Regions from separate parts of the Homo sapiens genome. Here region 1 is reported to be linked to region 2. Evidence: microRNA targets listed by miRTarBase, many of them from high-throughput screens and not tested one by one. Region 2 holds a microRNA gene; the other region holds the end of a gene's coding sequence.

Region 1 (12,340 bases), not on the chromosome of region 2:
AAAAAAGAAACAAAAAAAACCAGAGACAAAAATTAAAGTCACCTGAAATCCCACCATCCAGAGATGATCAATCCTATTCTTTTGTTTCTATATAAATAGACACCCACAAAAATTGGGATTGTACTGTACATGGGTTTTTGAAGCTGACTTTTCCACTTAACAGATCCTGATGTAATTCTTGTTTATACTTCAGAAGCAAATTATTTCGCACTCATATAGATATGATATCATCCTCAACCAATAAGATACTATTTTCTTTGGAGGTGAGAGAGAATTCACCTTTGGGGCTAAATTAGAAAGAAATGGCTGATCACTTTGCATTTTCTATTCGTGACGTGGAACACGGTTCAGTAGAGAATACTATCAGTAAAGCCAGTGTGACATTTTAGGGTCCTTGAACTGATTGGTTTGAGATATATAATTTGTTTTACTATCTTCAGTATTTTCATGTGTTTACAGACACCCTAGATAGCATGATGTTATGCATCTGGGAAAATAGCAAACTGAAAAATAAGAAATATCATTCTTGGAGAGAAGTTTTGTTAGGTATAACTTGCATGAGAACCTATCCCATACTCTCACCATTATACATTTCAAAGGTCTTAATGACTGTCTTTCCCTCATTAGGTTCTGGATCTCTGGGCAATGTTACATGACTATGGGGAAATACTTATTTTTTTCACAAATACAGGCTTCTTGTGAGTGAAAATAGAACATAGACTTTTTTAGGAAAAAGTTGGATACTATCATCTGTATTTGAATATACAAGATTTTCTTGGACATTGTGATGTTAACCAGCAGACAAGAAAATTAGATTACAGTGTCTCACAATAATATCTGCTTTAGACCAAAAAAAGAAAAAGAAAACATAATCTGTTGTTTAACACATGTAGTAATCATGTAAAGACAAGTTAATTCCTTGGACACATCTGAATTTTTTTCCTTTGTATATTTAAAATCACGGAAGGCATAAAACTAGATTAATAAAAGTCCTTTTATTTCCCTTAGGTGAAAAAGAATGTGGCAATTGCTGATTTTAAAATGCCTTTTAAAAATAAGAATTACATCAAGATAGTGCAGTCATTTACACTAAATAAAAAATAAAGGTTGGCTTGGATTAATGTATCACTGCCTATTAAAAAGCATTGTAACGCTTCTGCCCTCTAAAGAAAGGAACCTATTTCTCATTCACAAAATTATTCCAGACAGTATCTAGTCCTTTACCATATCCATTATAAATATACCCCAAAATGGCCAAATTATAGATGTCCTTTCATCTATTTCTAGCAGCCCATCAGACTGTTTATATAATTTGGGTCTATCCAATCAATCTCTGACTCAGCAATATTTTTCCCTTAAACTTTTTTTATAAACAACTCAATAACCCATTTCACCACAGTTGATCTTATTGGCCATGCAGCCGATAAAAATTTAGTCGTTAAGGTCACAAAACTGCATGACAATATTACAAGTTGCAGTATATACTACCTTCCAGTGTTTTACTAGGAACTTTCGATTTTTCAAAAAATCACTTAGATATAATGAAGCTTAAAAAAATATATGAAAACATTTCTAGGGATTTCCCCCAGATCTTTCAGGTTTCCTGATAGAAATCGTTTCATTTTTCAATGCAGTATGATATTGATCTCAAGCCACAAAAACTTGAGACATAATCAAAATTCCAGTAATTTTCTTTCTTAAAGAAAGGAAGAAACTATGGAGACATATTTGCAGCCCAGAAATCAATAGCCACATCAGGAAGACAAAAACATGCTTCAGTTATCTACCAGGGTGCCAGGTTTAACAAGGTTAGACTATTCTCATCTGGTTTCTCATCACAGTTCCAGGTGGGATCAAATTTGCTTAGAATATTGACTGGCTCCCATGCTGCACCTTCTTTAAATGTCCAGGAAAAAAACTATTTTTCTTCTTCTCATAGACTCAATCATTAGCAGGGACATAGAAAAATCCGTTTTTGTGTACCTCCTAGACCTTTGCAACGTTGACTGGTGTTCTACTGGCGACATTTCCATTCCCTTGGCTGTTTGGAAATTTCCTGGTAACATGTAAAGAAGGACTCACTCAAATGCCTAATTAAGGTTGAATGACTTGGTATGGACACTCTGGCCACCTTTTAAACAGCATTATTAAAATTGTGTTAGCAATTTGCTGAGAGAAATAGTCGTTGCCGATTTGAAGGAATGGACTTTGCTGTAGAAATGCGTAAAGTTTATGGCCAAGTCGCACGTAGCAGGATGATTTCTTTTTCTAGCTCAGGAAGCTGGCCAGTTTGCAATGACAAGTTATGATTCAGAGAATCTGGAGCATGTTGAAATCTACAGAGTGGATCCGAAAAATGTCCTATCTGTCAAAATAGCTGCTTAGCAGAAGCAGTGGCCTTTAACCTCTCAAATCCTACTCAAGTCTTAAGGGAAATTAGTCTAATGGTCTTTATTGATAGTATTCTCTACTGAACCATGTTCCACTTCACAAATAGAAAATACAAAGTGATCAGCCATTTCTTTCTAATTTAGCCCCAGAGGTGGATTCTCTCTCACCTCCAAAGAAAATAGTATCTTATTGGTTGAGGATGATGTCATACCTATAAGAGTACGAAATAATTTGCTTCTGAAGTATAAACAAGAATTACATCAGGATCTGTTTAGTGGAAAAGTCAGCTACAAAAACACATGCACAGTACGATCCCAATTTTTGTGGGTGTCTATTTATATACAAATAAAAGAATAGGAATGATCATCTCTGGATAGTGGGATTTCAGGTGACTTTAATTTTTGTCTCTGTATTTTTTAACACTTTCAAAATTTTCACAATCAGCATATGCTATAATCAGAAAAATAATCATTTTTGTTACAGATTTATTATCAGAGTAGATCCTTTCATATAAAGGAATTTTGTCATTCCCAAAGAAAATTCCAACATCTTGTTGCAGTATATTGCTTATGGAGAAGAGTGAGTGGTATGTGTCCTCTTTTTCACTGCAGGTTCTCCCCAGGATATAGCAGCCGTAAGAAGCCAAGCAGCCCTCCAGAGCATGCGAACGTCACGGCTGATGGCACAGAACGCAGGCATGATGGGAATAGGACCCTCCCAGAACCCTGGGACGATGGCCACCGCAGCTGCGCAGTCGGAGATGGGACTGGCCCCTTATAGCACCACGCCTACCAGCCAACCAGGAATGTACAATATGAGCACAGGCATGACCCAAATGTTGCAGCATCCAAACCAAAGTGGCATGAGCATCACACATAACCAAGCCCAGGGACCGAGGCAACCTGCCTCTGGGCAGGGGGTTGGAATGGTGAGTGGCTTTGGTCAGAGCATGCTGGTGAACTCAGCCATTACCCAGCAACATCCACAGATGAAAGGGCCAGTAGGCCAGGCCTTGCCTAGGCCCCAAGCCCCTCCAAGGCTGCAGAGCCTTATGGGAACAGTCCAGCAAGGAGCACAAAGCTGGCAACAGAGGAGCTTGCAGGGCATGCCTGGGAGGACTAGTGGAGAATTGGGACCATTCAACAATGGCGCCAGCTACCCTCTTCAAGCTGGGCAGCCGAGACTGACCAAGCAGCACTTCCCACAGGGACTGAGCCAGTCAGTCGTGGATGCTAACACGGGCACAGTGAGGACCCTCAACCCAGCTGCCATGGGTCGGCAGATGATGCCATCGCTCCCGGGGCAGCAAGGCACCAGCCAGGCGAGGCCAATGGTCATGTCTGGCCTGAGCCAGGGAGTCCCAGGCATGCCAGCGTTCAGCCAGCCCCCAGCACAGCAGCAGATACCCAGTGGCAGCTTTGCTCCAAGCAGCCAGAGCCAAGCCTATGAGCGGAATGCCCCTCAGGACGTGTCATACAATTACAGTGGCGACGGAGCTGGGGGTTCCTTCCCTGGCCTCCCGGACGGTGCAGACCTTGTGGACTCCATCATCAAAGGCGGGCCAGGGGACGAGTGGATGCAGGAGCTTGATGAATTGTTTGGTAACCCCTAATCAAGAGAGGCCCCAAGATCCACAACTCGAGTGGTTAAAGCTTAAAAAGTGAAAAAGAAACAGGATGTTGACCCATCCTTGTTTTTTGTTTTTTTGACCCACGTAAACTGAGCAAAACTGCAGCTGGCTGACAATGGAAGATCCAGGTGCCAATCCACAGCCCCACCAGGCCTCATTTCACCTGATTTTCACACAGCAATCGAGATGAGACGCCATGCAGATCCCGGCTGCGAGAGAGGGAGACACCCGGAGGAGCAGGTGGGAAGATGAAGCCGGCCAGAGCCCCTCTGCCCAGCATGCCCTGTGATCGCCTGGCCCAGCAGGAGCTGCTTCAGCCGAGAGGGACTATTACCCAAGAGAGGTATCCTCAGCCCCTCCTGCCCCAGGTCGGGAGACAGCAGCTTTGGAGACACAAAAGAGACAGAGCCTCAGCCAGGGAGAGTGAGTCCCCCAGAAGAGGCTGGGTGGTTGCACAGGCCAGGTGCACAGGTTGGAAATGCACTGAACTCTGGGTGCCGAGAGATGTAAGGCTTTGAGACATGCTACTGAATTTGGAGGGCAGGCACGAAGAACAGTGAGATTGTCAAAAGGAGACAACCACAGATCCTACAGGACTGTCTGTCTCCTGCCCCATGATGACCCTCAGGAATTGCAAAGGCTCTGCTGTCACAAGGAGAGCAGGCTGAGTTTGGAGCAGGGTCCATCCGGCAGTCCTGGGACGGCTTCCCTCTGCTGGTGCCCCTGGTGGCAGTCCCTCCAGGTGGGGCTGGAGCCTGCTGGCGCCCAATACAAAACCCATACATCCAGGTGGGTCACATCTACTTCTGGCGGCCGCAGGGCAGGGAAACCCCTACTGGACCCTGTGTGTCTGCCAGCCTGGAGCCTTTGTCTCCAGCCCTGCCTTTATTCCTCCTTGCCTCCACACCAGCCTCCCCTTGCTTCTCCTTACAGACTATCCAAGAAGTGAAGCTTATGTCTTTAGGGAGCCTTGGGCAGAGTCCACATAAATGCAGGAAGAACTTAGACAATGCCTGAAATGCAAAGGCGACACTGGAGTCTTCTTTCTCTAACGTGTAGCGTTGAATGAATATCTGCCTGGAACCAAGAGGGCTGCTCTGATGTTTGGGAGTCGGTTTTTTGTGAGCCACATCTGATATTTCTGATATCCCCAGGAAGGAGTGGCCTGGAGGTCACTGGTTCAGGCTCCCTTTGGGCGAAATCCTGGGAGTGATGCTCTAAAAATCCACCTTTCCCATCATCCCTACTCATCAGAAAGACAAATATAAAATCCCAGAGAGGTGGAGGAGCTAAAAAAGCAATTGCTCCACCTTACAAATTTGGATAGAAAGGAGATGTAGTTTATTTCATATGGGCAAAGTAGTCCTCTTCCAAAGTCCTGTACAGTTGTTCTCTGCAATTGACGCACATCTGCCCTAAGCGAAATCTGTCAGAAGGAATCAACAAGGCTCCTTGCCTCCCCTCCCAATCCCCCTTTTGGAGGACTTGTGGCTTCGGTGTCGTCCTAAGTGAGAGTGGCGTGTGCTTTTTTCCTGTCCCCTCCTCCCTCCGTGTCCTAGACGCTGGCTGCCTTCTGTGCACTCCCAGGCAGATCACTACGGAAGAGTCGGAGCCTGTGGGGTTGGACTGGCCACACTCAGTCCTGAGAAGGCGAGTTGCCATGGAAAGCTGGGGGCAGAGGTGTTTTTGGAGAGGAGGCGGCAGGCAAACATTGCCTTTGACTTGCTCTCCGCGTACCCGGGGTTGTAGAGCTGCTCAGGAAGGGGCAGGATGTAAGGCCAGAGGTGCCTGGTGGGTGAGAAGCCCAGGCAGGGGCTGGGCGCCCTCTCCGAAGAGGTGGCAGCAGGGTGACCCTGAACTCCCCAAATGGGGAGTGATGCCACTGGGGAAACTGAGTGGATCAAAGAGATGAAACCAAAAAAAAGCAAACAAACAAATGAGAAGACACAAAACATAATTACCTTTTCCTGAAAGGTACAGGAAATAAATATATAAGCAATGATGAGAAACTGGAGGTGGCTAATGGAAGTGAGACAGACAGGGGTGGGGGGCTCCATTATCTTTTAAAAGCTTCCTCCAAATGCTCAGTACTGGGACCAACTAATAGGTAGATTTTAATATGGTGGTTTTGTTTTGGTTTTGTTTTTACTACGGTGCTGATGTATATGTAATGTCTAAAAAAAGTTATTTGTACATAAGTTTTTACAATACTGCAGATATCACTGGGTCTACTATCTGTAAAAAATATACATATAAATATATATATACTGTTTGTTTAAAATAGAGTATTTTTATTTCATTCCTTAACTCATCATCACAGCAGTGGTATTGCACTTCAGATGACATCTAATTACTAATTTGTACTGTATGACCTCTGGCAACTTGCTCCATTTTATTCAGATTTTTCTAGTTTTCTGTTTTTACTTTGTACATTGAGCATTGCTTATTTCCTTTTAAGAAATGTACAGAACGCTGAAATGTAGAAATGAAGTGATGTTGACATACCACTTTTAAAGAAAACAAAAACAAAAATAAAAGATTATCTGAATCAATCCAAAGTATAGTTTATTTTAAGATCCTCACTGGAGCTCCAATCTTAATTAAGCAGACATATTATTCCTGGGTTTTAATTAACTGCAGTTCTTTTCTCAAAATTTTGATATCATTCTTTAAACATTTATTTAATGGGAGAGATCAATCATTCCCAGCCTTTGCATTCAACTGCACAACTGATGATACTTTCTGAATTTACTGCCGCACTCTGAAGGATGTGGCAAAGGGAAGGGAGGAAAGTCAACTTTGCATGGAACATAGTGCAATCCATTTGTAGATTCAGTACCATAACAATTCCATTTCCAACTAGTTCATCTGGAGGTAGGGAGGCTCCACTGGAAAAATAAATATTTTTGTCAAAAAAAGAAAAATCGGAATATATTGAGGGGAAGTAATAAAGGTTCTTGTTCCACTGTAGTGAGCACTGTCAGTAAACAGCCTCCACCACCCCACTCCTACCAGGCCACTTCTTTGCATCTCAAACCATGGCCTGGCTTCACCTGCACCCACAGAATTGAAAGTGCTTAGAAGTTTATACCCCTCTGGATTGACTTTAGCCAGTGACTCACTGGTGCAGGAGTATAAAAGCCCAGTTGACTTGTCTGAACAAACTCAGATATAATTTTGCTCCAGAGCTCTACTGCAAGATCAGGCAAAGGCTGGGACTTGGTTTAAAGGTGCCCCCCAGACCGGGCACTGTAGCTTACACCTGCAATCCCACCCAGCACTTTGGGAGGGCAAGGCAAGCGGATCACTTGAGCCCAGGAGTTTTGTCAGAGGCGTGTGAACCAGAGCAACTCCATGTTAAATAGGAGCTGGGTAAAATGAGACTGAAACCTACTGGGCTGCATTCCCAGACGGTTAAGGCATTCTAAGTCACAGGATGAGATAGGAGTTCAGCACAAAATACACGGCATAAAGACCTTGCTGATAAAACAGTTTGCAGTAAAGGAGCCAGCCAAAGCCCACCAAAACCAAAATAGCGACGAGGGTGACCTCTGGTCGTCCTCACTGCCACACTCCCACCAGTGCCATGACAGTTTACAAATGCCATGGCAAGGTCAGGAAGTTACCCTATATGGTCTAAAAAGGGGAGGCATGAATAATGCACCCCTTGTTTAGCATATCATCAAGAGATAACCATAAAAATGGACAACCAGCAGCCCTCGGGGCTGCTCTATGGAGTAGCCATTCTTTTATTCCTTTACTTTCTTAATAAACTTGCTTTCACTGTGCACTGCAGACTCACCCTGAATTCTTTCTTGCGCAAGAGCCAAGAACCCTCTCTTGGGGTCTGCATCAGGACCCCTTTCCTGTAACACATTTCTCTGTCCTGCAACATATTTCTGGCAACCACCGAAGGGACAATAGTGTAGAAACCTAGACCCAACAGCTACCTTTGGGTAAGTATTGGAGTCCTCTAACATATTTCTGGAGAACGATGGGACGATACTGGGGAGACACCCCCTAACACAAAGGAAATAGACTGCAGCACTGATTGGAAGACTTTGGGTAAGTGGTGGGGTACCTGGGTAAAGAATGGGATTGGGTTAGAGGCCCAGCTTAGTGGAGTTAGAGTCTCTCCTAAGATAGAGGTGGTTAAAGGCTCCCCCTTAATAAAAGGCAAGGATGCTTGACCGACCTCTGGTTAGAGGCCCGACTTAGGAGAGTTAGAGTCCCTTCTAAGATTTAGCGGGTTAGAGGCCCCTCTTCGGTAAAGTCCCTCTCGGCTAAGAACAGGTTCGGCACTATGGGATGTTAACTGCTATTCTCTTTGGATTAATCTCCCTTGTACTTTGCTGATGGCTATGGGTGACAGAATTAGGAATGTACAGGATCCTGGGACATGGGGAGCTTTTTCCTCCCTAACAAGGGAAATTTGAGAGCTGGTAGGATTACTGGAAAAGATCCTTGCTCCACCGACAGCAGCCACCTGAACTTTTTAGTGTCGCTGCAATGGGTGGTTCTTTCTCTGGCCTCCCTGATCATTTCACCTTCCCCGCCCTGCCACAGGCAATGTTTTTCTCTCTCTCCTTTCTCTTTCTTTTCTATTACTCAGGGCGACCATCTTGCCCAGAGACCACATGTTGAAACTCCTAGTCGGAGGTTAGATTAAAGATGACAGGGCCCACCTGAGGGCAAATTTAAGCCTTGCCAGTTTGATATTGGATGCTAAGCAGCCTGGTTAATATCTATGTTTTATTACGCGTATTTTGCTTTGGCCAGAACAAAAAGAAATACTTTTCCTTTATGATGCGGCTTGGCCCCCAAAGGCAGTTGTGCCACAAGCCAGATCACTAGGGCCCCTCAGGGAAAGAGAACCCAGAAGCTTAGCATGCTGGCAAAAGGGTAGGAATTTCTTCCCAGTCAGATTTCTGGCTTCTGTCTCTGTGTGCAAATAGTTAAATGAATGGGGGGAAAAAATCAGTGTTTATGTCCTCTGTAAAGTTTTGATTAATGCCAAAAAGAATTCTAAGGCTAGTCTTAAGCTGGTGTATTTTGTGCCATGAATTCGTTTTTCTGTGTAAAGGGGTACTTTAGGATAAAACATGGGCTTAGAATACCTGTAAGCCCGCTTTTCAGGATGACCTCACAAGCTGGTCAGTAATAAACTTGGCTGCAGGTCCCTGAAACAAACAAAAAACTGGATGAAATCTCCACCTTGTTTTATGTCCTTGGGAGCTTGACCTTTTAACCATGTGGTGGTACCTTCCCGTGGTCTCCACCTTCCAGGAAATAGGAATTTTAGGATTCATGTCATAGCTCTAAAAATCATATTAAATAGTTAAAAGCCTTTGCAAGCTCAAAATTAACTACTCTAGACTCTTCCTGGGAAAGGAACTGGAGACCACGCTTTGCTATAGCTCAGTAGCTAAGATCGTGCACTTTCATATTGGTAGCCAGGGTTCGATTTCCCCGCCTACCATTTCTGGTTTCATATCTGCATGACCTTGTCTATTCTCTTCTTCTCCATGGACTGTCTTAAATTTTCCTTTCACTAAGCACCTAGGAGGTTATCTCTGGTAGAGTTCAGAAGCTAGAAATATTGGCCGCTTGGCATTGTTAAAGTCAGGTAATAAGAGATCCAAAAGTATTTCTTTTTTAAAGAACACTATGGTTAGAAGTCAGCTTAATTAAAAGTAGATAAACAAGCAATAGATATATTTAAAAGGCCATTAATGATTTTCTCTTTTTGGAACTTGTTTTTCTGGAAAAAGGTTTTTTCTTCTCAGTCAACTGAATTATTTTTCTCCTTTTTTTTTTTTTTTTTTTTTTCTGTCTTGCCACTCTTAATGAACACACGAGAGGCCCTAAGATAACTTCTGGTAGCCTGGGACTCCTTGGGAAAAACAAAGGAGGTGTCACAGACTCATTGGGAAAAACAAAGGAGGTGTCACAGACTCCGTTTTGGGAAAAAACCTGTTTTTATCTTGAAACCCCAGGAATTAAAAGCAGATGGATCCCTCTCAAAATCAAATGCTCTGTTCTGTTTTGTATTGTGTTATCTGATGGTTTTGAGTTTGGGGGGTATCAGAAATTACTTTGCATTTTGAGACAGCTTTGCTGTGAAATAACTAGGTAGGAAATATACTTTAAGGGATGGCTAATAGTAGTTATGGAGGGATACTTTGACTCCGCACACTTGGAACAGAGAAGCATGCTTTGCTTTGTTTTTCAGAGTCAAGGAAACTTTTCTTTTGAGCTATTTATAGCTTGTAGCAATTGAGTAAAGCATACTGCTGTGAACAAAATTTGGAACATATTTGTTTCTCTCTAACCTGACTTCAGAATTTGGAAATTAGTTGTGAGTATTCTTAACTTATGGCAATATACTTATTTGCATAAATGCAATACGAATCTGTTTTCTTTTGTAACAGGACACAATTGGAGAAATGGGTCATTTTACCAAGGCTTTGACTGGAATGGTGTGCTTTCCTTTAAGGAATCAAACTTGACTTGTAGAGCCAATAAAAACCCTTTGGGGAACTGGCCTCATACCTTGCCTACACAGTCCCTGTATAGGGTTTCTGACCTATGGTAAGTAAAGAATTTCACTTTCTCACAGGTCCAGGAGCCCCAAGTTATCTTGGGACCTCAAAAGGACAGGAATTTACCTAACTCATAGGTATTTCAGGGTACAAACCCATGGCAGGGCTCGGCTTTTTAAAAAGTCTTATCTGAGATTCCTTATGAAACAGAGTTCCATCAAAGCCAATTAAAATGCCTGTGTGAAAAATAATTATCCTTGCTGTACTTTATACAAATAATCAGGCCAAGTATAATAAAGCAAATCAGTCTTACCATAATTCGTCTTTAGTAAAAATGGGAAACTGGAGCGAGAACTATTATGTTTCAAGAACTATGGTACACTTGTTATTAAATTCTAGTCTCACTAGTTGTTTTTAAGTTTGTTTCTGCAATTTAAGCTAACCCTGTTTATTCCTGTGAACTAACCAGTGATCTCTAACTGCTGCTCAGAGGAAACAAGAGGGATGGGTAATGTAAAAGTCTGGATCAGTATTCTAATTCTGGGCACATTGCAATCAGCTGCCAACCCCATATCAGCTTGGTTTCAACAGTTGCACAGTTGATGGAAAGCCTTCTAATTTAGCTTGCTTGGAATAACTTTACTTATTTTGCTTTACTCTTGTGGAATACATTACTGCTATACTCTTTGTGTAGGAATACAGAACAAGCTTACTGAATGTTTTCTTAAACTAAACACTTATTAATCTTCCAGATATCACCTCTTGTCAAAACTCAAGAGTCATGAATGGCCCTCACCATACTGATGCTTTCTGACTGAGCTCCTCTATACCCTGAATGCAAGAGACCCTCATAGTTAGGCAGGAATATCATCGCCCCTATTCAGCCTGAAGAAGTTACAGAAGATGGATCTTTGTCCCTCTGCAACCCTTAGGATTAAAGGTTCTCTTATAAAAGAAAGGGGGGAAATGTCAGAGGCGGCAACTCCATCTTAAATAGGAACTGGGTGAAATGAGGCTGAAACCTACTGGGCTACATTCCCAGACAGTTAAGGCATTCTAAGTCACAGGATGAGATAGGTCAGCACAAAATACATGTCATAAAGACCTTGCCGATAAACCAGGTTGCAGTAAAGGAGCTGGCCAAAATCCAGCAAAACCAAAATGGCGACGAGAGTGACCTCTGGTCTTCCTCTCTGCTACACTCCCACCAGTGCCATGAGAGTTTACAAATGCCATGGCAATACCAGGGAGTTACCCTATATGTTCTAAAAAGGAGAGACATGAATAATCCACCCCTTGTTTAGTATATCATCAAGAGATAACCATAAAAATAGGCAACCAGCAGCCCTCGGGGCTGCTCTATGGAGTAGCCATTCTTTTATTCCTTTACTTTCTTAATAAACTTGCTTTCACTTTGCACTGAGCACTCACTCGTGCAAGAATTCTTTCTTGCACGAGATCCAAGAACCTTCTCTTGGGGTCTGGATTGGGACCTTTTCCTGTAACATATTTCTCTGTCCTGTAACAGTTTGAGACCAGCCTGGGCAACATGGCGAAACCCCATCTCTACAAAAAATAGAAAACAGCCGGTCATGGTGATGCATTCCTGTAGTCCCAGCTACTCAGGAGGCTGAGGTGGGAGAATCACCTGAGCCCAGGAAGTCAAGGCTGCAGTGGATTGTGATCACGCCACTGCACTCCAACCAGGGTGACAGAGAGAGACCCTGTCTCAAAACAAAAAAAAAAAAAGGGAAAAATAAAGGAGCCCCCTATTTTG
Region 2 (12,340 bases):
ACCTGGGCAACACAGGGAGACCCCATCTCTACAAAAAAAAAAAAAAAAAAAAAAAAAAAAAAAAAATTAGCCAAGGCATGGTGGGGCATGCCTATAGTCCCAGCTACTTGGGAGGCTGAGGCAGGAAAATCGCTTCAGCCCAGGAGGATGAGGCTGCAGTGAGCCATCATCGTGCCACAGCACTCCAACCTGGGCGACAGAGTGACCTGTCTAAAAAAAAAAAAATTTTAAGTAATGTGATAATATATGGTAAATATCAATGAATAGGCCAAGTGTGATGGCTCACACATATAATCTCAGCACTTTGGGAGGCTGAGGTGGGAGGACCACTTGAGCCCAGGAATTGAGCCCTGGGCAACATGGTGAAACCTTGCCTCTACAAAAACAAAAACAAAAACAACAAAAATTTGCTGGACATGGTGGCCTGTGCTGCTAGTTCCAGCTACTCAGGAGCCTGAGGTGGGAGGATTGCTTAATTCGGGGAGGTGGAGGTGGACGTTGCAGTGAGCAGAGATCATGCCACTGCACTCCAGAGTGAGAGACTCTGTCTCAAAAAAAAAAAAATTGACCACATTATAACTGTAATGTCGTCAGGTTCAAAATAAAAACAGATGAGAATTAAAAATGGCAAAAATAACAAAAGTTGAATGGAGCTAAATAGAACTTAAATTGTGTGTAGCACTGTTAGTTTATGACACTGGGACTCAGCATTTCTATTTCATTGAGCGTTTTCTTTTGGTCTATTAATCAGTTGTTTATTTCTGCTAACATGTAAAAGAAAGCTTATTTGCTGTGAGGTATATAAAATTATGTGTGTACACCTCAATATTAATTCTATTTTCTAATTATATATTTGTAAACTGTTCTATGTTCTTACCATTCTTGTCTTCTTGGTCCATCCTAGACTTAGTGAAGTATTAAAATCTCCTACTTTGTTCATGTTTCTGTCCATTTCTTCTTGTATTCTAACAGATTTTGCTTTGTGCACTTTGTTGTTTTTGACAAATCTGGTTTTATTAAGCCTCTGCTCTCAATCTTGCAATGATTTTCCATTATATGTGGAATAAAAATCTAAAACACTTGTCAAGTCCTACAAAAAGCCTATATGATCTGGTTCCTGGCTACCTCATTTCCTGCCATTCTTTCTGCCAATTTATTTATTTATTTTTGTTGAGACAGTCTCACCCTGTCGCCCAGGCTGGAGTGCAGTGGCATGATCTTGGCTCACTGCCATCTTCACCTCCTGGGTTCAAGCGACTCTCCTGCCTCAGCCTCCCAAGGAGCTGGGACTACAAGCGTACGCCACAATGCCTGGCTAATTTGTGTATTTTCAGTAGAGATGGGGTTTCGCCATGTTGGCCAGGCTGGTCTTAAACTCCTGACCTCAAGTGATCTGCCCGCCTTGGCCTCCCAAAGTCCTGGGATTACAGGTATGAGCCACTGCGCCCCACCTCCAATTTTCTTAAACATGCCAAACACATGCCTATTTTGGGCCTTTAGTGGCTACTCCTGGAGCCTGGAAAGCTCTTGTCCCAACTATTTTCCTGGCTCAATCCCTAAGACTTCATTCAAGATGCTGCTCAAATATCTCCTAAGAAAGACTATCTCTAGTCTCCCTGTGTCAAAATCACATCCCCACCACCCCCCATACTTTCTCTGCTTTTACTATTTTATCATCTTCATTCAATGTATCACTGCCATAGTCCCCCCTTATCCTTGGTTTCAGCTTCCTGTGGCATATTTTGAGAGAGACCACATTCACATAACTTTTATTACAATATTCATTATTGTTAATCTCTTACCGTGCCTTATAAATTAGGCTTTATCACAGGTATGTGTGTAAAGGAAAAAGCATGGAATATATCGGGTTTGGCACTATCCCGGGTTTCAGATATCCACTGGGGGTCTTGGAACATATTCCCCATGGATTACTGTGGGATCCTGTGCTTGAAAATTACGTATTTATTATCTTCAGTATAATGTGTTATGGGGGTAGAAACTTCATTGTTGTGTTCACCAATGTATCTCAAGCTGGTACACAGTATTCAACAAATATCTGCTGAATGAATGAAACGTATTGCTTTATTATTTGGTTGTTCCTCTTATCAATATTAGTTATCTTCTAGAATGTGGTTTTGCTTTCAGTTCTACTTTGATATTAATACTGTCACCATCATTTTTTGTTCATGAAGGCTTGTCTACTTTTGCCTGTATCTTAATTTTTACTCTCAGTTTGTGTTTCTCTATTCCAAGCAGCAAATGTTGCATATATTTTCATGTTGTTTTTATTTATTTTTTATTTTTTTTGAGACGGAGTCTCGCTCTGTCACCCAGGCTGGAGGGCAGTGGCGTGATCTCAGCTCACTGCAACCTCCGCCTCCCTGGTTCAAGCAATTCTTCTGCTTCAGCTTCCTGAGTAGCTGGGATTACAGGCACCTGCCACCATGCCCAGATAATTTTTTTATTTGTGGTAGAGATGGGGTTTCACCATGTTGGCCAGACTTGCCTTGAACTCCTGACCTCAAATGATCCGCTCACCTCGGCCTCCCAAAGTGCTGGGATTACAGGCGCAAGCCACCGCGCCTGGCCTTCATGTTGTTTTTTAATTCGAATTGTCTTTTATATATGATATTATATATGATATTAAGCATATATATAAATTCTTTTATATATGATATTAAGCATTTCCATTTATCCAGTTATTTCTGTAATCCTACATTATGTTTTATAAATTTTGTTTTCTTAGTATTTCATTCCCTCTGCTATTTGATAAAACTTACTTTCTCAGACTACATGACATGCTAGCTAATGGCAAAGGGATAGGAAATGGGAAGTGGAGGACATTATAAAATACCAATCACAGCTTCTTGACCAACGGAAGCAAGCAAAGTCTGTACTAATCCCCATTTATTCTTTATCCTGGTGTGTGTGTGTGTGTGTCTATGAAACATTTTCAACCAATTTCTTCTTTTTACTCTTGATGATTAAATTTGTTTGTTGGTGGTAAATTTTATAATTTGGTCCTTAGGTTACAGAATATCACGTTGAGATTTTTGACTGAACTAGAAGAATAATGAACATCACTGAGAAACCCAGAGATTGATCAGACTTAGCATCTTCCCTCTGGAGGAGAGTATGCATTTTTTATTTTGTTTTGTTTTGTGACAGGATCTCACTGCAGGCTGGATTGCACTGGTGTGATCTTGGCTCACTGCAGCCTAGGCCTCCTGGACTCACTCAGGCGATCTTCCCACCTCAGCCTCCCCAGTAGCTGGGACTACAGGTACCTGCCACCATGCCCAAGTAACTTTTCTGTAGAAACGGGGTTTTGTCACGTTGCCCAGGTGGGTCTCAAACTCCTGGGCTCAAGCGATCCTCCCACTTCAGCCTCCCAAAGTGCTGAGATTGCTATGCAGCGCCTAGCAAAGTACATATTTTTGTTTAAATGAGAGAAGCTGCATTATTTCAAGAGGGAGAATGGTGGTATAGCTACTGCTGTTGTTTGGGAGTATGGCTAGAGGTATGTATAAAAAATGTTGACTACTGGCCGGATGCAGTGGCTCACGCCTATAATCACAGCACTTTGGGAGGGTGAGGTGGGTGGATCACCTGAGGTCAGGAGTTCAAGACCAGCCTGGCCAACATGGTGAAACCCCGTCTCTGCTACAAAAATTAGCTGGGCGTGTTGGCGCATGCCTGTAATCCCAGCTACTCAGGAGGCTGAGGCAGGAAAATCGCTTGAACCCAGGAGGTGGAGGTTGCAGTGAGCCGAGATTGCACCACTACACTCCAGCTTGGGCAACAGAGTGAGAACCCATCTCAAAAAAAAAAACAAATGTTGACTACCAAGGTGAACCTCTGTGGACAGAACAGATTAGAACTCTGCATCTCCTTTGAGTATACTTTTGTGTTAGTACACTTTCCAGATTTCCCTGAAGCTAGGGTTCTAGATGCAAACTTAGTTTCTCCATCTAACTGCATGGTGCCAGATTTTTTCTATAGCAGTGTCTTGTTGTTCAGCCACTTGCTTTGTAGGTGTCAAGAGAGTTTTTTGTGGAAATAGTAGTGGCAGCAACTTCCTCACTGGTGGACAACAACTTTAACAGTGTGTTCTTGAAGTCAAAAGTCCAAGGTAGGCTTCCTGACTTCCTCTCTTCTTGGTTGGAGCAGAAGTAGTAGCATTTATGGCTGGTCCGGCTGGTCATGTTTATGGTGCAATCTTTCCTGGAGACTCATCATAGAGCCCTATCTAACCATTCTGTAGACATCTAGTTTCCTATATTAAATGCTTTCCTGCTTATGTTAATGTTTTTTGATTCTTAAATCCAGACCCTGATCGATAAACCAAAAATTCAAAATTTTTCTTTTTCCAGCTAAATTTCATTTAAATGAGTTGCTCAAATGTTCATTTAGCCTCTTTTCACTGAGTAAGAAACTTAGTTTTGTAAATAGTCTTTGGCATTAACTATCCTTGATTAGTCTGAGCATATATGATACAAAATGTAACGCCTCTATTCCCAGCACTTTGGAAGGCTGAGGCGGGAGGATCGCTTGAGCCCATGAGTTGGAGACCAACCTGGGCAACATAGGGAGACCCCGTCTCTACAAAAAAAAAAAAAAATTTATATATAGTCAAACAAGTTATTTCATCTCTTAAGGCAAAGAGCTCTCTGTCTGTGGTTCAACACATTGTTATCCATTGGGCAAAAATGATCATTGCCATGCTCTGATAGTTTTAAAATGATCAGACAGGAAATTCATTATATTGCAAACTGGTGTTCAGAAATGTTAGGATTTTCAGTATTTTTATTTTCCAAACATTATTTTAAAAGAACATTAAAAGCATTAGAAATACAAATCTTGCCTAATGGTTAACATACGAACAATTATTATAAAATGTTTAAAATACGTCACATACTTTGCATCACAGTAAGCATCAAGAGAACTAATTAACATATCCTGATAATTAATCATATTCAACTGAATTCTCATTACTTTTAGTTCTCATTTTAGCCCTTATGAAGAGATAAGTTATATATTTCTACCTCCACCTGTATCATCATGACACCTTTATTATGATAACACAGGTAGAAGTAGACATATATAACTTACGAAGAAAGAAGTTATGTCTCTATAGATATAGAGATATAGATACGGACGGGGGCTATGAATCGAGCCCACTATGTATTTCATGCAATTTATAACAATAATTTTTTTAACTTTTCTTTTGGAGATTATTTTTTGATGAGCATAAAGAGACAATACCTCATATGCACCTGCTTAGTTTTCTTTGTGCTGTAATTTTTACCTCCCAATGATGGGCCTCATGCCAGTCAAATCATCTCAAACTCAAACGTCACACAGAAAACCTGCCATTTTAAATTTTATAAATAGAAATTACTTTTGTGTTAATATTTTATTGTATCACATTTGAAATGCCTAGCCAATTTTTGTATTTTTAATAGAGACAAGGTTTTTTGCATAGCCAAAAAAATAGATATATGCCTTTAAAAATGTGATGCTTGATTAATGTTGTCTTCATTATAAAGCTGTTTGGCACACTGGGGTAAATACCAGGTTTTGAATTAAGACAAAAATCTAATTCCTAATTTGCCACAATTCTTTGTACGATCTTGGGAAAGAATATTAGATTTCTTAATTCTTTGTTAAAAAGAGATAATAGGCCAGTGCACTGGCTCACGCCTGTAATCCCAGTACTTAGGTAGGCCGAGGTGGGTGGATCACAAGGTCAGAAGTTTGAGACCAGCCTGGCTAACTTGGTGAAACCTTGTCTCTATTAAAAATACAAAAATTAGCTGGGAGTGGTGGTGCGTGCCTGTAGTCCCAGCTACTCGGGAGGCTGACACAGGAGAATCGCTTGAACCTGGGAGGCGGAGGTTGCAGTGAGCCGAGATTGTGCCACCGCACTCCATCCTGGGCAACAAGCATGAGACTCCATCTTAAAAAAAAGAAAAGGGAAAAAGGGAAGGAGGGAGGGAGAAAGGGAAAGAAGGAGGGAGTAGGTAGGCAAATCAGTCTAAAAGGTGAACTTAAAAACAAAATAATTCGAGGCTGCCCCTGGGTGTGGCAAGAAAAAAATTTAGAAGAAAAAGAAAACAAAAGAAAATCTATGCCTATTTAAATCTCAAAAATAGAAATAACTGATCAATACTGAAAGGTAACAGTTATAAGATAAGGTTGAGCAGAGTTCTAATTGAATATCTATTCTGTCTTCTCTATACCTCTCATGACCCCTGTATTTGGGGAGAGCTGAGGGAGGAAACTATAAATTAAATGCCTTTCAGCTGGATGTGGTTTCTCATGCCTGTAATCCTAGCACTTTGGGAGGCCGAGGTGGGTGGATTACTTGAGGCCAGGAATTCAAGACCAGCCTGGCTATCATGGTGAAACCCTGTCTCTACCAAAAATACAAAAATTAGCCAGGAGTGGTGGCGGGCACCTGTAATCCCAGCTACTCTGGAGGCTGAGGCAAGACAATCGCTTGAACCCGGGAAGCGGAGGTTGCAGCGATCTGAGATCATGCCACTGCACTTTAGCCTGGGTGACAGAGTAAGACTCTGTTTCTACAAAAAAAAAAAAAGACTTTTACGCAAAGGAACAAAGTACCTTCCAATCTGCAATAATAACTCTTGAATATAACAATTTATAAAGATAGGTGTTGTATATTGATGCTCATCTTGTGTGTCTAACATTTAAAAACCTAGTGAGTTCAAATACTAACTGTATACTGAAAATATTTTTACAATAAAATATGAGTTCACAGTTGTTATGCTAGGAATCTCAGAGCATATAGTAAAATTAGTTTCAGGTATAGAAATACTTAAATCTATTTTTTCTTTCTGCCCATTTCCACTTTAAGATTAATGGGAGAGAAATAAAATGATTAGTTTGAAAATAGATTATCTTGAGAATTTTTCTACCATAATAATAAATAAAGACAAAAAAGAAGTCATTTCTAAATAGTTACTTGAATACTGTCAGGTGGTTAGTAAACTCTTCTCACACAGAAGGAAAACATAAATCAAAACATTCCCAGTCTTATCTGTAAACCTTGTTAAGCAATAATAAATATTGCCCAATGCATGACAGGAGTCCACACTGTTTTCCACAGAACACCGAGATGATTACCGCAGTGCCTTCTCTCCTGGGAACAGTGCACCTCTACCATAGATGCAGTCCTCTTCACTAGGCTTCTTGAATAAGATCATTCAGAAACAATTCACTTTTGGGCCAGTTGGGGTGGCTCATGCCTGTAATCCCAGCACTTCGGGAGGCCGAGGCAGGCAGATCACCTGAGGTCAGGAGTTCAAGACAAGTTCAAGACCTGTCTCTACTAAAAAATACAAAAATGAGCTGGGCATGGTGGCACACGCCTGTAATCCCAGCTACTCAGGAGGCTGAGGCAGGAGAATCACTTGAGCCCGGGAGGCGCAGGTTGCAGTGAGCAGAGATCATGCCACTGCACTCCAGCCTGGGCAACAGAGCAAGACTCCCTCTCAGGAAAAAAATAAATAAATAAATAATTCACTTTTAACAAGCAAAAATATATTTCTTTTCTTTCTTTCTTTCTCTTTTTTTCATTTTTTTGAGATGACATCTCGCTCTTGTCACCCAGGCTGGAGTGCAATGGCACGATCTCAGCTCACTGCAACCTGTCTCCCAGGTTCAAGCGATTCTCTTGCCTCAACCTCCCGAGTAGCTGGGATTACAGGTGCTTGCCACCATGCCTTGCTAATTTTTGTGTTTTTAGTAGAGACGGGGTTTCATCATGTTGGCCAGGCTGGTCTCGAACTCCTGACCCTCAGGTGATCCACCCGCCTCAGCCTCCCAAAGTGCTGGGATTACAGGTGTGAGCCACCATGCCCGGCCCAAATATATTTCTTTTCAAAAGAATTGTAAACCTACTCAACTGACATAAAACATGTCTATAATAAGAAATGGCAATAATCATAATACTATATTCTTAGTTGACTGTCCTATGAAAGAAAAGTACCTAATACCTGTGTGAGTGTTTTTGGTAAAGACAGAGTTATCACCTTTTCTGCCTTAAGAATATATATATTTCTGGCTAAGCACAGTGGCTCATGCCTGTAATCCCAGCACTTTGGGAGGCCGAGGCAGGCGGATCACCTAAGGTCAGGAGTTGAAGACCAGCCTGACCAACACAGAGAAACCCTGTCTCTAATAAAAATACAAAAATTAGCCGGGCATGGTGGCATGCGCCTGTAATCCCAGCTACTTGGGAGGCTGAGACAGGAGAATCACTTGAACCCGGGAGGTGGAGGTTGCGGTGAGCCGAGGTCATGCCATTGCACTCCAGCCTGGGCAACAAGAGTGAAACTCCGTCTCAAAAAAAAAAAAAAAAAAAAAAAAAAAAAAAGAATATATACATTTCCTTTAGAGACAGGGTCTTGCTGTGTTGCCCAGGCTGGACTCATAATCCCGGGCTCAAGTGATCCTCCTGCCTCAGCCTCCCAAGTAGCTAGGACTACAGGTGCATGCCACTGCACCCAGCTAACAATATATTATTTATTCAAATCAACCTGCTACCAACAAGGTGTAGTGTTCCCGATTTCAACACTTCAAAAAATCAAAATTTACAATTCAATTAATAAAAATAACACCTCAGCAAAAATCATATTTTCACATTCTTTAAAAAAAATCCAGTCAATACCTTATTTTGAAGTCACATAACACTGACTCAAATCATGATAATCGGTTGACTTTCTACTTTAACACAGTAGCTTCATTCCTGGCATCTATTTAAAGGCTCGGTACAAAAGACTGAGGCAAAGAGCAGGGTAAAAAATCTAAAACTTTCACATCAAATCTTAAGATGTCAACAAACTACAAAGCAAATCAACAGATACTGACACATCAGATGAAAGAAAACCATAACTGCCAACTTTTCAGTTGAATCTTGTAGGTTTTGATCCGCCACTGATCTCAAGTTAGAATAAAGTCCATTACTATCAGAAACAAAAACTGTTTACATAAGATCCTATAGCCTCCATGACTTTAAACGGAGGGGACTGGAATCTGCTTGGCTGAAGTGCTGTCATATTCCTGCACTAAGTCATTAGTGGTGTGATAATGCATGGCAATATATGAATTGGCAAATCCAAAAGAGTTTACTGGCTGTAAGTTACATGGGCTGCTCTCCTCCTGGGAAGGGCTGCTGTTATAGATGCTGTAGTAAGGTTCAATCCGAGTGTTGATGGGGGTCGAGCTGCTCTGACCACAGTGTTGATGTCCAGCAGAGATCTTGGGACTCACCATACTTTCTTTTGAATGACTTGGGCCACAAGCCTGGTCCACAAATTTCTTCTGTGGCTTTGGAGATAACATGTAGGCAGAGTTTGTTTCATGATGGGAGGATTTGTTTCTGTTGACTTCGAGGTTCCCTTTTCCCATGGCTCGAAGTCGAGTCTTTTGTTTGCAGCAGAAAAAACCCAGGCCTATGTATTGGAGGCACCAGAGCACTTTCCTTCTCAGCCCTGCACTGTTCCGAGAATATATAAAAGGGTTTAATCCTGACTTGAAAAATATAAGAGTAAATCCAAACAATTCAAACTGGTAAAGAATGAAGCTCCCATTGCTGGAGAGAACCACCTGTACCAAGGAAATCCCCAGTGGAAGACAGCACACCAGGACTGACAGCACAATGATCACACAGGTGACCACGGCTTTGGAATCCTTGGCAGTGGAGAGGTTGATGGCTGATACGAGCTGGAGTCGGCTTGCTGCAGGGGTGACCAGTTGGTTGGGACTCTTGGTATATCCACGGGTCTGAACGTGCTGCAGTTTGTTGTAATTCTGGTTCCTATACAGAGCCGGCATGGCACACTGGATGGGATCTCCACCTCCCTGCACAGGGACCCCCATGAAAGGCTGTGGTCTGGAAGCATCGACTGTGATTACAGGGGGGCACTTTCTGACTTGAGCGTTCTTCCGCAGGGTCTGAGCAATCATGATGTAAGAGACAGAGACCACAGCAACACAGAAGGTGAAGTCGACCACATAGAGAGACAAAATGGCTTTCCCTTTTCCAGCAATCAGACTGGACATGGGAAGACAGAGGTGGGACTTGCTGGTTTTCAAGGTAGCCAAGGTGGCAAGGGTGAAACTGGTGGCCCAGAGAAGCAGGGTGAGGAGTACGGTGCAGGGAAAGGAGGCCGTGCGATTAGGCTGTTTCCCCAACACCATCCGGAGCCGGTGCAGGGCGATCACTGCCACTGTCTTCAGAGACATGATGATGAAGCCTGAACTGGTGAGATGGAAAGTGAAGCAGAAAGCATCCGGGATACTACTGGCTGAGCTGAAGAATAACACAAAGGTGAACATGGGGGCTGTCACTCCACAAATGAAGAGGTCACAGAAGGACAGGTTCAGGATCATGAAATCAAAGTTGGTTCTGAATTTCCTGAAGGCTGGATCGAAGAAGGACAAGAAGACAATGAAGTTGCCATAGGAACCCAGGCAGAAGATGACCGCCAGTAGAAAAGTACAGGTCACCAAGGTGGCTGTGTGGATGAGATCCTGAAGACCCTCCTGGAGAGAGGTGCTGTTTCCTTCCTGTGAGTGAGGCACATGGAGCGAGGTGGCATTGGGGGCATCCTGAAGGTGGCCTGTTGAGTTCATTTTCGGAGAGAAATGTCTCCTTCTTCTGCTCCCCAAAAATACTCAGTGAGTCAGGGCCTCAGCTCACAGATGAGCAATATGTGACAAAAGAGGCCCAAGACAGATAAGCCTACACACAAAAATGCACACCCAGAAACAGAAAGGGATTAATGTAGAAACAGAAAGGAATTCATACAGTGATCTCATTATTAGTAGTAGTATTAGTACTAGTATCTCTCACCTTGAGAGAAAAATTTATTCATTTATTAGCAATGGGGTCTTACCATGTTGCCCAGGCTGGACTTGAACTCCTGTGCTCAAGCAGTCCTCCTGGCTTAGCTTCCCAAGTAGCTGGGACTACAGGCATGCACCACCAAACCCAGCTCTCTCTCTCTCTTTTTTTTTTTTAACAAAACACTAGAATTTTTCAGCTCTGATTTGGTGCATAGACAGCATTTCTCCTCACAAAGGCCAACACAGAAAAAGATACAAATACATTCATCCAGCTAATATTTAGTTTTATGACACAGAGGTTTTCAAACAAGTTTAAGTGTCACCTGAAGAGCATGTTAAAAAGTTTAAGTTATCACTTGGAGAGCAGATTTCTTGGCCTCGCCCCTTGTGATTCTGTTTGAGGGGTGTGCAGATGTTACTTTTAGAAACACTTCTGTGTCAGGCACTGAAGATACACAAGAACGTAATCTCTCCACCAAAGAGATGACAATCTAGTTGGAGATCAATCTAACTATGTAATAATTACAGCCTAATAAGGTTGCAGGGTGCTATGAGAGCATGGAAGGGGGGAACCTACTCCAACATGGAAAGGGAGCTGGGAAAGGATAAAGGGAGCTTTAGCAAGCACAGGCCAGCTGGATGAAAGGTCGGGGGTATGGAGTGGGGACAGACAGGCTAAGAGAAGTGGGGGTAGGTCTTTGCAGCAGAAGCACTGCGGCAAAAAACTGCATGTGCTTGAAATATAGGCTGGAGGGTATTGTTGATGCATAATGTGGCCCTTCACATAATTCCCATAAATCATTAACAAACCCTGTTTCGTTCCCTATGAAGAATCCTTTATTTCCCAGTATTTATAATTTTTCCCCCAGCTTGCAATTTCTTGGCCAATTAACTACATATTCTCCTTTGGAAAAAAACCTTGTGTAGGACTACATGTGAGACGGAAAACTGGAAGTAACCAAGGATGTTGGAATTATATTAGAAATTTACAAGGTGCAAAGCACCACATTGTAAAGTCTAAACTGCTATATAAATGTGAGTTACCATTATCCCAACAAGAATATCCTGATGGTGAAGCAGGAGGCATGCACCCATTCCTGCATTCGTTCGCTCAATTTATATTAATTATGTGCATACCATATGCCAGCATTACGCCAGGTGCTAGGTGCTACGATGAGTAAGGCAGTCTCTACTTTAAAAGAATAACTTCTTGCTCCTTTTTCCTAACTTTTTTTTTTCTATTTTGCAATGAGACTTAATGTGCACTCACACAAATCTACATTGTCCCAAATCCCAAAGTCCTGCAAGGGTTGGTGCCCAACCTGCTCCCAACAGATGCTTCTGGTGGGACCGACTAAGCTGTTCCTTGGAGACAGCACTATGTTCTTGACAACCAAAAAGGGTTTGCCTTAATCTAGAATTTTAGGAACAATAAGTGGCACTGCAGAGGTCCAGGGCTGATGTT

The links. The annotated mature microRNA hsa-miR-3682-3p reads UGAUGAUACAGGUGGAGGUAG and lies in region 2 at 5,042-5,062, opposite strand. An mRNA with a match to its seed (bases 2 to 7 or 8) in the 3' UTR can be bound and repressed. Matches are read on the target gene's strand: a 7mer-m8 pairs with bases 2 to 8, a 7mer-A1 pairs with bases 2 to 7 and ends in A, and an 8mer does both.
Region 1: the mRNA of MAML3 is a reported target of hsa-miR-3682-3p. Seed matches in the 3' UTR shown: 7mer-A1 at 6,332-6,338.

What each region holds. Positions count from the first base shown.
Region 1 is chr4:139,710,986-139,723,325 of GRCh38, reverse strand. MAML3 (mastermind like transcriptional coactivator 3) reads left to right here. Exons shown (of 5, transcript NM_018717.5): 5 at 3,003-6,573. The coding sequence ends at 4,003. It also overlaps a transcript of MGST2 not described here. Among named protein-coding and RNA genes, the nearest start is that of MGST2, 51 kb to the right of the region's middle. RefSeq lists an enhancer at 11,007-12,206.
Region 2 is chr2:53,844,095-53,856,434 of GRCh38, forward strand. It overlaps MIR3682 (microRNA 3682), which reads right to left and starts at 5,111; the gene lies at 5,028-5,111. The region is part of intron 1 of GPR75-ASB3 (GPR75-ASB3 readthrough); the gene reads right to left. It overlaps GPR75 (G protein-coupled receptor 75), which reads right to left. Exons shown (of 2, transcript NM_006794.4): 2 at 8,818-10,771. The coding sequence starts at 10,662. The coding sequence ends at 9,040.